Homo sapiens: one gene and its partners. The protein of the gene in region 3 purifies or fractionates together with the protein of the main gene of each other region. This does not show direct contact. Each region holds a gene or a part of one and is shown on either strand. Other genes may lie near its edges.

The links.
Region 1: the proteins of GPR156 (region 3) and STX8 purify together in Homo sapiens (co-immunoprecipitation; 3 studies listed by BioGRID and IntAct, with this or other methods). This does not show direct contact.
Region 2: the proteins of GPR156 (region 3) and PEX14 purify together in Homo sapiens (co-immunoprecipitation; 3 studies listed by BioGRID and IntAct, with this or other methods). This does not show direct contact.

The regions. Positions count from the first base shown.
Region 1 is NC_000017.11:9,506,218-9,509,866, forward strand, and holds part of STX8 (syntaxin-8), read right to left. Parts: intron 1-3,649. UniProt on the Homo sapiens protein: Vesicle trafficking protein that functions in the early secretory pathway, possibly by mediating retrograde transport from cis-Golgi membranes to the ER.
Region 2 is NC_000001.11:10,481,442-10,485,090, forward strand, and holds part of PEX14 (peroxisomal membrane protein PEX14), read left to right. Parts: intron 1-3,051; exon of another isoform or gene 3,052-3,596; coding exon of another isoform or gene 3,597-3,649. UniProt on the Homo sapiens protein: Component of the PEX13-PEX14 docking complex, a translocon channel that specifically mediates the import of peroxisomal cargo proteins bound to PEX5 receptor.
Region 3 is NC_000003.12:120,283,042-120,286,790, forward strand, and holds the start of GPR156 (probable G-protein coupled receptor 156), read right to left. Parts: upstream 2,182-3,749; 5' UTR 1,988-2,181; exon of another isoform or gene 1,843-1,987; intron 1-1,842. UniProt on the Homo sapiens protein: Orphan G-protein coupled receptor involved in the regulation of hair cell orientation in mechanosensory organs of the inner ear.

The DNA of each region.
Region 1 (3,649 bases), on a different chromosome or scaffold from region 3:
ACCTGTCTGCATTCTGTCCAAGCTGAGAAGATCATCTTGTCCAGGACACGACCTTCTGACCAATTCAACAAAGAGATGAACATTAGACTCATCTTTAGAGCTCTCAACAGATTCATGAAAAATCATAGAATAAATGATGGGTGGGACATCAGCAAGATGACTGATTAGAGTCAGCTGGTGCTCACCCGCTCCCCCCCCCCCCCACCCACCTTTCTTAGGAAAGGACTAAGGCAATGAATAAACAGCTAAGATTTGACTTCAGTGTGGGAAAGTGCTGAACTGCAGTGGGGAAGTGGAGAGGCCCCTGTGGTGACTGAAAGTCTAGGAGGGCAGCATGAAGGCCCCCAGCCTCTGTGGCCCCATCTCTTCCACCAGGACTGAGGAGGCCTGGACATATGAAGGCCTTCTCCCTGTGAGGAAAAGGTAAGCGGGAGATTCCCACCTGCCCCCACTGCCACTGCAAACACCTACAGTCCTTATTACAGGAGGATCCCCCAGTCCTTGCAAGTTCTGAGCCCAGTTTGGAGAGCTGCTGGGAATTCGTACAGTTGCACTGCCCCAGATTAGGAGCATTCCCCACTCCCCACCCACTCCATGAGCCAAGTTACTACAGCATGGCGCCATCTTTAGACCACAGCTCCCTCTGGAGTGTGCCTTCCTCTTGGGGCCAGTAGCCACTGCACCTTTCCAGCACTGGGACTCCATTTTCATGCCACCAAAGCTACACAGGTGGCTGAACTCCACAACCCAGGGCTCGGGAATGGCTGTGACTCTGGTCCTGCAATGAAGGGAAACCACCCTCTGCACTTTCAGCCACAGAAACAGTCCCACCCAGGGCAAACCCACTCTTGAGCCAACCAAACTGCTGCATACCCTCCTGCAAGCAGAAGGCCCTGAGCAACTGACAGGCTAGCAGAGTGACTACGCTCCTGCATCCCGGATCTATGAAACAGTCGGGCAGTGCAGCCCCCTACAGACATGCCCCCGGCCTGCCCAAAGGCCCCACACCTCAATCAGGGCCTGAGAAACAACCCTGCAGGCTGCCCCTGGCAGACATACCCCCAGGCCAGCCAAGTAGCCATGTGTCCATATCTCAGGCCTGAAAAACAGCCCATGGGTCACCCCTAGCGGCAACTCCCCTAGGCCAGCCGAGCAGCCTTGTGTTCATATCCCGGGTCTGAGAAGCAACTCCTCAGGCCACTCCTGGCAGACATGCCCCCGGGGCCATCAAGCAGACTTATGCCCACCTCTCATGCCTGAGAAATAGCCCTGTAGGCTGTCCCCAGCAGGCATTCCCCACAGGAGAGCTGAGCAGCAGTGTGCCCATGTCCCAAACCTGAGAAACAGCCCAACAGGCCACCTCTGGCAGGCATACTCCCAGACTGGCCAAGCAACCAAGCAACTGTGCCCTCAGCCAGAGTAAGGGCACCAACCCCAACCCCAGCAAGTGAGACCCCAAGTTGGACAACCCACCATGTGAACGCATGCATCGCTGACCTGACAAATAGCCCGGTGAACACATCCCTGGCAAAGTCATGCCACCACCACCACAAAGCCTCTCAGCTGAGGCCACTGAGACACTCACAAATGTCACTGGCATGGATTACAGTTAAAGAAACTACACAAAAACTACACTACTATGCCCACCTGGAACCAAAGCCAATGCATCCCACTGAACCAACACCCCAAGATCCATTCATACAAATATTTCTTTCCCTGCAAAACCTACCACATAAAATTGGAAGAGGCAATTATTCCACCAGATGCATAGACATCAACATAGGGATACATCGAACATGAAAAAGCAAGGAAACATGACACCTCCAAAGGAATACAATAATTCCTGTGTAATAGACCCCAATGATAGAGAAATATACAAAATGACAGAAAAAGAATTCAAAATAGTAATCTTACAGTGAGATACAAGATAATAGAGCTAGACAATTTGATGAAATCAGGAAAACAATTCATGACTTGAACAAGAAATTCAACAAGAAGATAAATACCATAAAAAAGAACAAAACAGGTATCCTGGAGTGGAAGAATTCAATGAATAAGTAAATAAGTACAAGCTAGAGCTTTACCAAAAGACTAGACCAAGCAGAATTTTATTTATTTATTTTTTTGGAGACAGGTTCTTACTCTGTCACCCAGGCTGGAGTGCAGTGGCATTATCTCAGCTCACTGCAACCTCCACCTCCTGGGCTCAAGTGATTCTCCCTCCTCAGTCCTCCTGAGTAGCTGGGACTACAGGGGCATGCCATCACATCCAGCTAATTTTTGTATTTTTTGGTAGAGATGGGGTTTCACCATGTTAGCCAGGTTGGTATCGAACTCCTAATCTCAAGTGATCTGCCCGCCTTGGCCTCCCAAAGTGCCAGGATTACAGGTGTGAGCCACCATGCGTGGCTGAATTTTTGAACTTGAAGACAGATCTTGTGAAATAACACAGAAAGATGGGGGGAAGAAAAAGTAAAATGGAATGAAGAAAGCCTACAGAATTCATGGGACACTATTAAGTGAACAAATATTCACACTGTAGGTGTTCCAGAAAGAGAAAAGAAGGGCAAATGTACAGAAAACATTGAATGAAATAGTAGCTGAAAACTTCCCAAGTCTTGGGAGCTTCCAGATCCAGGAAGCTAAAAGAATCCCAAATAGATTCCATTCAAACAGGACCCCTCTTAGGCACATTAGAGTCAAATTATCAAAAGTCAAAGACAAAGAATTCTAAAAACAGCAAGAGAAGGACTGGATGTGGTGGCTCATGCCTGTTATCCCAGTACTTTGGGAGGCCGAGGCTGGCAGATCACGATGTCAGGAGTTCAAGACCAGCCTGGCCAACATGGTGAAACTCTGTCTCTACTAAAAATACAAAAAAATTAGCTGGGCATGGTGGCAGGTGCCTGTAATCCCAGCTACTCAGGAGGCAGAGGCAGGAGAATCACTTGAACCTGGGAGGCGGAGGTTGCAGTGAGCTGAGACCACGCTACTGCACTCCAGCCTGGGCAACAGAGCAAGACTCCATCTCAAAAACAAACAAACAACAATGACAAAAAGAAACCAGCAAGAGAAAAGCATCAAATCACCTATGAGGGAGTTCCCATTAGACTAATAGCAGATTTCTCAGCAGAAATCTTACCAACCAAGAGAGAATAGGATTTTATGTTCAAAGTACTAAAAGAAAAAAAAAATCTGCCAACCAAGAATATTACATGCAGCAAAGATATCCTCCAGAAATGAAAGAGAAATAAAATCTTTCACAGACAAGCAAAAACGAAGGTAATCCATCACCACTAGACCAGTCTTACAAGAAGTGCTCAAGGGAGTATTACATCTGGAAGTGAAAAGATCATAACAGCCATTATAAAAACATGTGACACTATAAAACTCACTGGTAGAGCCAATATACAAAGGAAAAAGAGAAAGAAATCAAGCCTTATCACTTCAGAACACTACCCAACCACAAAAATAAACAGTAAGAGGAAGTAAGGAACAAAGGATATAGAAAACAGCCAGAAAACAATAAAATGACAAGATAAGTCCTCACCTATTAATAATAACCTTGAATGTAAGTGAATTAAATATCTCATTAAAAGACATAGACTGGATAACTAGATTAAAAAAAAAAAAACAAGACTAGACTCAA
Region 2 (3,649 bases), on a different chromosome or scaffold from region 3:
TTTGTTTGTTTGTTTTTTGAGACAGGGTCTTACTCTGTCACCCAGTCTGGAGTGGAGAGGTGTTATCACAGCTCACTGTAGCCTTGACCTCCTGGGTTCAAGTGATCCTCCAGCCTCAGCCTCCCGAGTAGCTGGGACTATAGTCATGCACTATGATGCCCAGCTAATTATTTTTTGTAGAGGTCGGGTCTCGCTGTGTCGCCCAGGCTGGTCTTGAACTCCTGACCTCAAGTGAGCCTCCCACCTCAGTCTCCCAGGCTTCTTTTACTTAACACATATTTTTGAGATTCATTCATGATGAGAACAGTGACAGTTTATTATCACTGCTTTATACAGTTATTGTATGAATGTGTTTGGCCATTTATTATTAACCATTCTACTCTTTTTTTTTTTTTTTTTTGAGACAATGCCTGGCTCTGTTGCCCAGGCTGGAGTGCAGTGGTACGATTTCGGCTCACTGCAAACTGCTTCCCAGGCTCAAGCCATCCTCCTACCTCAGCTCCCCTGGTAGCTGGGACCACAGGCGCATGCCACCACACCTGGCTAATTATTTTTGTATTTTTTGTAGAGACGGGGTTTTGCCATGTTGCCCAGGCTGGTCTTGAACTCCTGAGCTCAACCAGTCTGCCCGTCTGGGCCTCCCAAAGTGCTGAGATTACCAGTGTGAGTGACCACATCTGGCCACCATTCTACTTTTTGTTTTTTGAGACTGAGTCTTGCTCTATCACCCAGGCTGGAGTGCAGTGGCATGATCTTGGCTCACTGCAACCTCTGCCTCCCAGGTTCAAGTGATTCTTCTGCCTCAGCCTCCTGAGTAACTGGGATTATAGGCACTGGCCACCATGCCTGGCTAATTTTTGTGTTTTTAGTAGAGACGGGGGATTCACCATGTTGGCCGGGCTGGTCTCGAACTCCTGACCTCAAGTGATCCACCTACCTTGGCCTCCCAAAGTGGTGGGATTATAGGCGTGAGCCCCTGCGGGTGGCCCATCTTACTTTTTTTTTTTTTTTTGAAATGGAGTCTCGCTCTGTCACCGGCTGGAGTGCAGTGGCGCAATCTCAGCTCACTGCAACCTCCGTCTCCCGGGTTCAGGTGATTCTTCTGCCTCAGCCTCCCAAGTAGCTGGGACTACAGGCATGTGCCACCATGCCCGGCTAATTTTTGTATTTTTAGTAGAGATGGGGTTTCTTCATGTTGGCCAGGATGGTCTCGATGTCTTGACCTCATGATCCACCTGCCTTGGCCTCCCAAAGTGCTGGGATTACAAGCATGAGCCACCGTGCCTGGCCTGAGCCATTCTACTTTTAATGGACATTAGATTGTTTCACCTTTAGGGTCATTACAAATAGTACTGCTGTGAAAATACCTGTACGTGTCTTTTTGTGAACATAATATGTGCATTTCTGGTGAGTTCATCTACGTTTTTTATTTTTTATGGTATTGACATGTTTGGAGAGTCTGGACTACTTGTTTTGTGAAATGTTCCACCATCTGGATTTGTCTGATTTGTTCCCTTACATTTAGATCCGGGTTAAACATTCTTTTGTGAGAATATTATGTAAGTGACGTTGTGTCTATCTGTGTATCATATCTGGAGGAACGAGTCCCATTGTCGAAGATGAAGTTTGATTGTTTGGTTAAGGTGGTGTCTATCACATTTCTCCATCATAAAGTTAACTTGCTAAATTAGTTGCTTTCTTTGCAACTTTGCTAGTATTGTTTTAAATTTTTGAGACAGGGTCTCACTCTGTCACCCTGGCTGGAGTGCAGTGGCACAGTCATGGCTCGCTGCAGTCGTGACCTCCTGGGCTCAAGTGATCCTCCTGCCTTGGCCTCCCAAAGTGCTAGGATTACAGGTGTGAACATGGCCAAGTTTTTCTTTTTTTCTTTCTTGAGATGGAGTCTTGCTCTGTCTCCAGGGTGGAGTGCAGTGGTATGATCTCGGCTTACTGCAATCTCCACTTCCCAGGTTCAAGCGATTCTCCCCCCTCAGCCTCCGGAGTAGCTGGGACTGCAGGTGTGCACCACCATGCCTGGCTAACTTTTTATATTTCAGTAGAGACGGGGTTTCACTATGTTGGCCAGGATGGTCTCAATCTCCTGACCTCATGATCCACCCGCCTCGGCCCCCCAAAGTGCTGGGATTATAGGCGTGAGCCACTGCGCCTGGCCTGGCCAAGTTTTTTTTTAGTATTTTAGTTTAATATTGTATTGACTGACAAAGTCTTATGGCCTAAACTTTACTGTGGAATTCTAATAGGTGTGTTGTGATCAGTTTGAGTTTTGACAAATTGTATATACGTGTGTAACCACTACCACCCTAAACCTGTGTAACCACCACTGCCACAAGCAAGATCAACAGTTTCAGTATCCCTAAACGTTCCCTTACGCCCCTTCCCATTGAATCCTTGCCTGTGGTCCTAGGAAATCTGAACTGTTTTCTATTACTATAGAGTATATTTGTCCCTCCTAGAATTTCATATGAATGAATTATGTATTCTTTTATGTCTTTTTTGGCTCAGAATAATGTTTGTGAAATTTATTTGTGTTATGGTATGTATCAGTAATTATCAGTAATGAATTACCTTTTTTTTTTTTTTTTTGAGATGGTATTTCGCTCTTGTTGCCCAGGTTGAAGTGAAGTGGCTCAGTCTTGGCTCACTGCAACCCCTGCCTCCTGGGTTCAAGAGATTCCCCTGCCCCAGCCTTCCAGTAGCTGGGATTACAGGCGCCCACCACCATGGCCGGCTAATTGGCTAATTTTTTTGAATTTTTAGTAGAGACAAGGTTTCACCATGTTGGCCAGAGTGGTCTTGAACCCCTGACCTCAAATGATTTGCCCACCTCGGCCTCCCAAAGTGCTGGGATTACATGTGTGAGTCACTGCGTCCAGCCAATTTTTTTTTGTTTAGTAGAGATGGGGTTTCACTGTGTTGGTCAGGCTGGTCTCCAACTCCTGACCTCATGTGATCCAACTGCCTTGGCCTCCCAATGTGTTGGGATTACAGGCGTGAGCCACTGCGCCTGACCATGAATTACTTTTTACCGCTGAGTAGTATTCCATCGTATGGATGGCTATATCTCAATTTGTTGATCTGTTCACCAGTTGATGGACATTTGTAGTAGTTTTTGATTCCTGCGTAACAGTATTACCACAAATTTAGCCGCTTGGCACAGCACACATTGATTATCTCATGGTTTCTGTGGGTCAGGAGTCAGGAAACCACTGGGCTGAGTCTCACCAGGCTACTATTGAGAAATCTGTCAGGACTGTGGTCGCTGACTAGGGAGGGGTCTGCTTCCTAGCTTGTGTGGTTGTTGGTGGCATTCAGTTCCTTATGGACCATGAGACTGGAGACTTTAGTGTGTTACTGTCAGCCAGCGGCCGCCCTCAGTTTCTTGCCAAATGAGTCTTCCCACTTGCCTCCTCAAAGCCAGCAGAAGAGAGAGTCTCTTAGTAAAGTGGACATTACCACGACGTATCTCACCCACATTAATGCAGTCACGTACATGCTGTCACCTTTGCCATATTGTGTTGGCCAGAAGCAAGTAACAGATCCTGGCCACATTTGAGTAGAAGGAACAGCACAGGGGCATGGATACCAGGAGGTGGGGATCATGGGGTCACCTTAGAGTCTGTTCCCCACA
Region 3 (3,749 bases):
TGTCTGGATTCTAAACACTGATTTTTATTAACAAGTTTGTTTTAAGATAATAAGTTTATAAAATGAGAGGTAGAAAACATCTCTGTATGTCTAAAATTTTTCATAATAAAGTACTGGAGAAAAAAAGGTGAGATAGTGATTTGCATCCTTTATCAGGCAAAATTCATCAGCAACTAAACATGAATGTTCTGATTCTCAAGACCTTTGCAAAATAAAGGCTCTGATTTTTTTTTTTCAACTAAATGTAGAACATTTCTTTCAACCCCCAAATCCACCTTTGCAGCCCAAGTCAGTCCACGTTGCACTGTTTCTGCAGCATGTCAGAGCCTCTGGCTTCTTTCCTCTCTCCCCCTTCCCCCAATTAATCTCTGAAACCTACATAAGAATGGAATAAAATGCAAATTCAAGGAGAAGGATGCAGTTTTCAGAGAAGGCCTCATCCTCCTCCTACCCTATAATGGAAATTCCCTTATGGTTAAACAACAAAAATGGAAATATTAAAACCCTCAGCTGAAAACAAACACTTAAGCACCTATTCTCCTTTCCAGAGAATCTGTTTCCCTCAATCATTATTTTTCCACTCTTTTGAGAGCCTTCTAGGCTGAAAGTTGTTTCATCTCACCCATCTTGGGTCTCTCCTAGGTCTCATTTCTGCCTTCACCAGGCTTGAAGTTCTATATCCCTAGGCTATCAGAACTTTGACTCTGACCAGGCTCAATTCTAGACTTTACTGGGGAATGGGGAGAAGCTAAAAGCTGGGGGTGGAAGAGAAGGGGAAACAGAGGGAACATTCCAGAGACAGTAGTGTCCCTGAAGGGGAATTAGGCTGGCAAAATGGGGACCAGAAAGCCACCTCTATTCCTCACAAGGGACACCTAACTCAAGCACAGCCTGCTAAAGCACTTTATTCTCCAGACTCAAATTGCCTTAACCTGTAAGCAAACGCTTCCCCAGCCATTTATCCGCAAGCGCATTTGCCCCACCTGCAGCAATGAAAGAAGCACTGTTTTTGCAAGCCGGGCTGCTACCCAGACTGCGAGGAGACATTCTGTGCAGAATTCAGCCACTGGTGGAGAAAAAGAAGTTTTTCTTTGCAGGCCTTGCTGCCTAATACAACTATATCAACAATTTCTCCCGCTGTGTAAGCCCCATCTGAAAATCTTTCCCTTTTATCTAGGATGCAAAAATGTAATGTTATCCTCCATATTCTGGTTTAAAGAACTACACCAGGAAAGACATTTTATGATAGGCTAGGGCATCATTTACCTCTAATTCAAGCATGCATGTACCTAGAAAACTAACAAAGGGGTAAGTTATGCCATGCCATGACTTCTCTTCCCAGATTTCTATCCTGAAATCTTAACAAAATTCGATTTTAAAAACCTCAAGGTTTGTATTCTTCACGAGTACATGGATACCTTGAGTTCTACCTAGAGGCCTCTAGTTTCTGACAGAGCTAACTTGGAAAGGGCTGCTTGCCAGGGTACAAGGATGTTGCAGCTTCCAGGTGACTCCCTCATGCCCAGAAGCAAGGCAGTTCAACAGACGCAGTGCAATACAATTGTCCCTTTTCAGGACTTTGCAATCTCCATGGGGGAGCCCATCGTGCCCGCCACTCTACACCCTGGGGGTGAACATGCCCTGCAAAGCAGATTCGGCGTGAGGAGACTCTGGAAAGTCTACAGGCGGTGGGAAACTGTTTCGGGATCTCTCATTTTCAGCACAGCCGGTCGCTTATTCAGCAGAAAACCCACGGCCCCATCTTCACACCAAATTACAGTACTCTCCCGTCTCTTCCACTGAAATTGCCACTCGCATCCCTGATGCGTGACCCCTGCTCACCTCAAGTTCCTATGAGAGTTTCTTTACCGGTTCCAAACAAACTGCCCAGATTCTGGAAAGGGAGAGAAAGCCCCTCCCCCTTTCCACTTTCACTTAATAATTAAGTGTTTGAAGTTTTGTGGATCCTTAAGGTCGCTGTGCTCACCTCATCAGCGTCGGACCGCCGAGAAGCGCCAAGCCCGCTGCTATGTGCAGGACGCCCACGGTCCCCCGGCGTCTCGCGCGTTCGCGGGGCTGGAAGGGGCGGGAAGGGGCGGGCCGGGGCAGAGACAGGGGCCCGCGCCCATCGCCGCGCCGGGAGCCTGGCGTGGAGGCGGCGGGACGGCGGCGCAGGCCTCTGAGGTGTGCGCGGGGCGCCGGGCGCCTCTGGCCGGGGCACTGGCTGAGCCACGCCTGCCCGCCCCTCCCTGGCGCCGCCCGCGTGGCGCGCCTCGACCCTGCTCTCCCGCGAGGGCCGGGAGGGCTCCGGGACCTTGCAGACTCCACGCGCCTCACGGCTCCTCCAGCTCCTCGGATCTTTCTCCTTGCGTCGCCGCCGAGTCCCCTGGGGCGGCCCCGCCTCCGGCCGTCTCCTCAGAGACCTTCCCTGGGGGGCGCCTTCCCCTCAGCGCCCCTTCCCGGGCCTCGAGCCAGCGGCTGCCGCAGGAGCTGGCCCCGGGGCGAGGAGCTTCAGATTCAGGTCCCTAGCCGGCCTCGGTAAGGAGACTGGAAGGATTCTCCGCGAATGCTCATTTTTATTTCTGGAGTGGCGTCGGAGTTACCAATTAGTTTTCTTATTTTATACTCTCTGGAGTTGCCAAATTCTTTACGTTGAGCTTTTGCTTATTTTATAATCAGAAAGACAAGTACGTTTCTTTTTCCAAGAATGCTTACAGGAGGCCACAAACAAGATGTTCGCACCCAGCCCACTGTCTTCCGCTTAAAAATATGTGTGAGATGTTGTGTTTAAGACACCCTCAAGGAGAAACATAGAGGGGAGACCTGGAAATGGTCTTGGGAATCCACTTAGACTTTCCATATTATATTTGTTTCATTTATTTTAAAATCTCAGACCTATTTATGTGCATTAGGACATTCCACATTTTTACAACTGCGCAGAGGAAATCTTTGGTTGTAGAGGACGGGAAGAGAGAGGCCAGGTCCGCAGACCCCACTGTGACAAGACAGTGGCTACATTCTTAACTGTTTTACACATTGTGATACCCAAAGACTTCTTTTCACAGGATTCTACTGAGGGGGAAAACAAGAGGAAGAAAGAAAGATAGACAAGGTTTTCCTCAAGGCAGTAAGCAAAAAGCTGGTTTCTCAGAAGAAAGAATTATGTCTGAGATTTTACCCAGGACTCTCCAGATCTCTCATTCTACACAGAAGGACCCTTTCATTTGGAACGTGCAGAAACTGAGGAGGACCATCTCTCTCCTCCATGGGGGCTGCCTGAGTTAAAAAGGCCTGGGTCCATCTTTTTTCCGTAGGAGAGCTGACTTCAGAGTCTAGAGCCAAATCTTCACTTCTGTGGCTCTAGATTGAGGATTTGCCCTTCTGATCTCTGTGGGGCTTTTTTTTTTTAACCTGGGAATTCCCCTGGGCTCTTCGGCTGTTATTCTCATCAACCCCTCTCTATATTCTGCAAGACATTGAAATCTTTCTCCCAGCTTGGCCCCCACCTCCAATCCCAGTATTCTCTTTTCTGAGATTGGAGTATTTCCAACCCCTCAGTTGCCAGGCACTGAAGGTTTTCATCTTCCAGGCCTGCCATGTTTACCTCTGAGATGTTTCTGGCAACTGTCCACTTCTCTGCATTCTCACACTGCTGCTCTTGATAAGCTTCGATTATCTGGGGCTGAATTGTTTCAATAATTTCCTAACTGATTTTCTTGCCTCCTATCTGTCCCCACCACCAACATAGA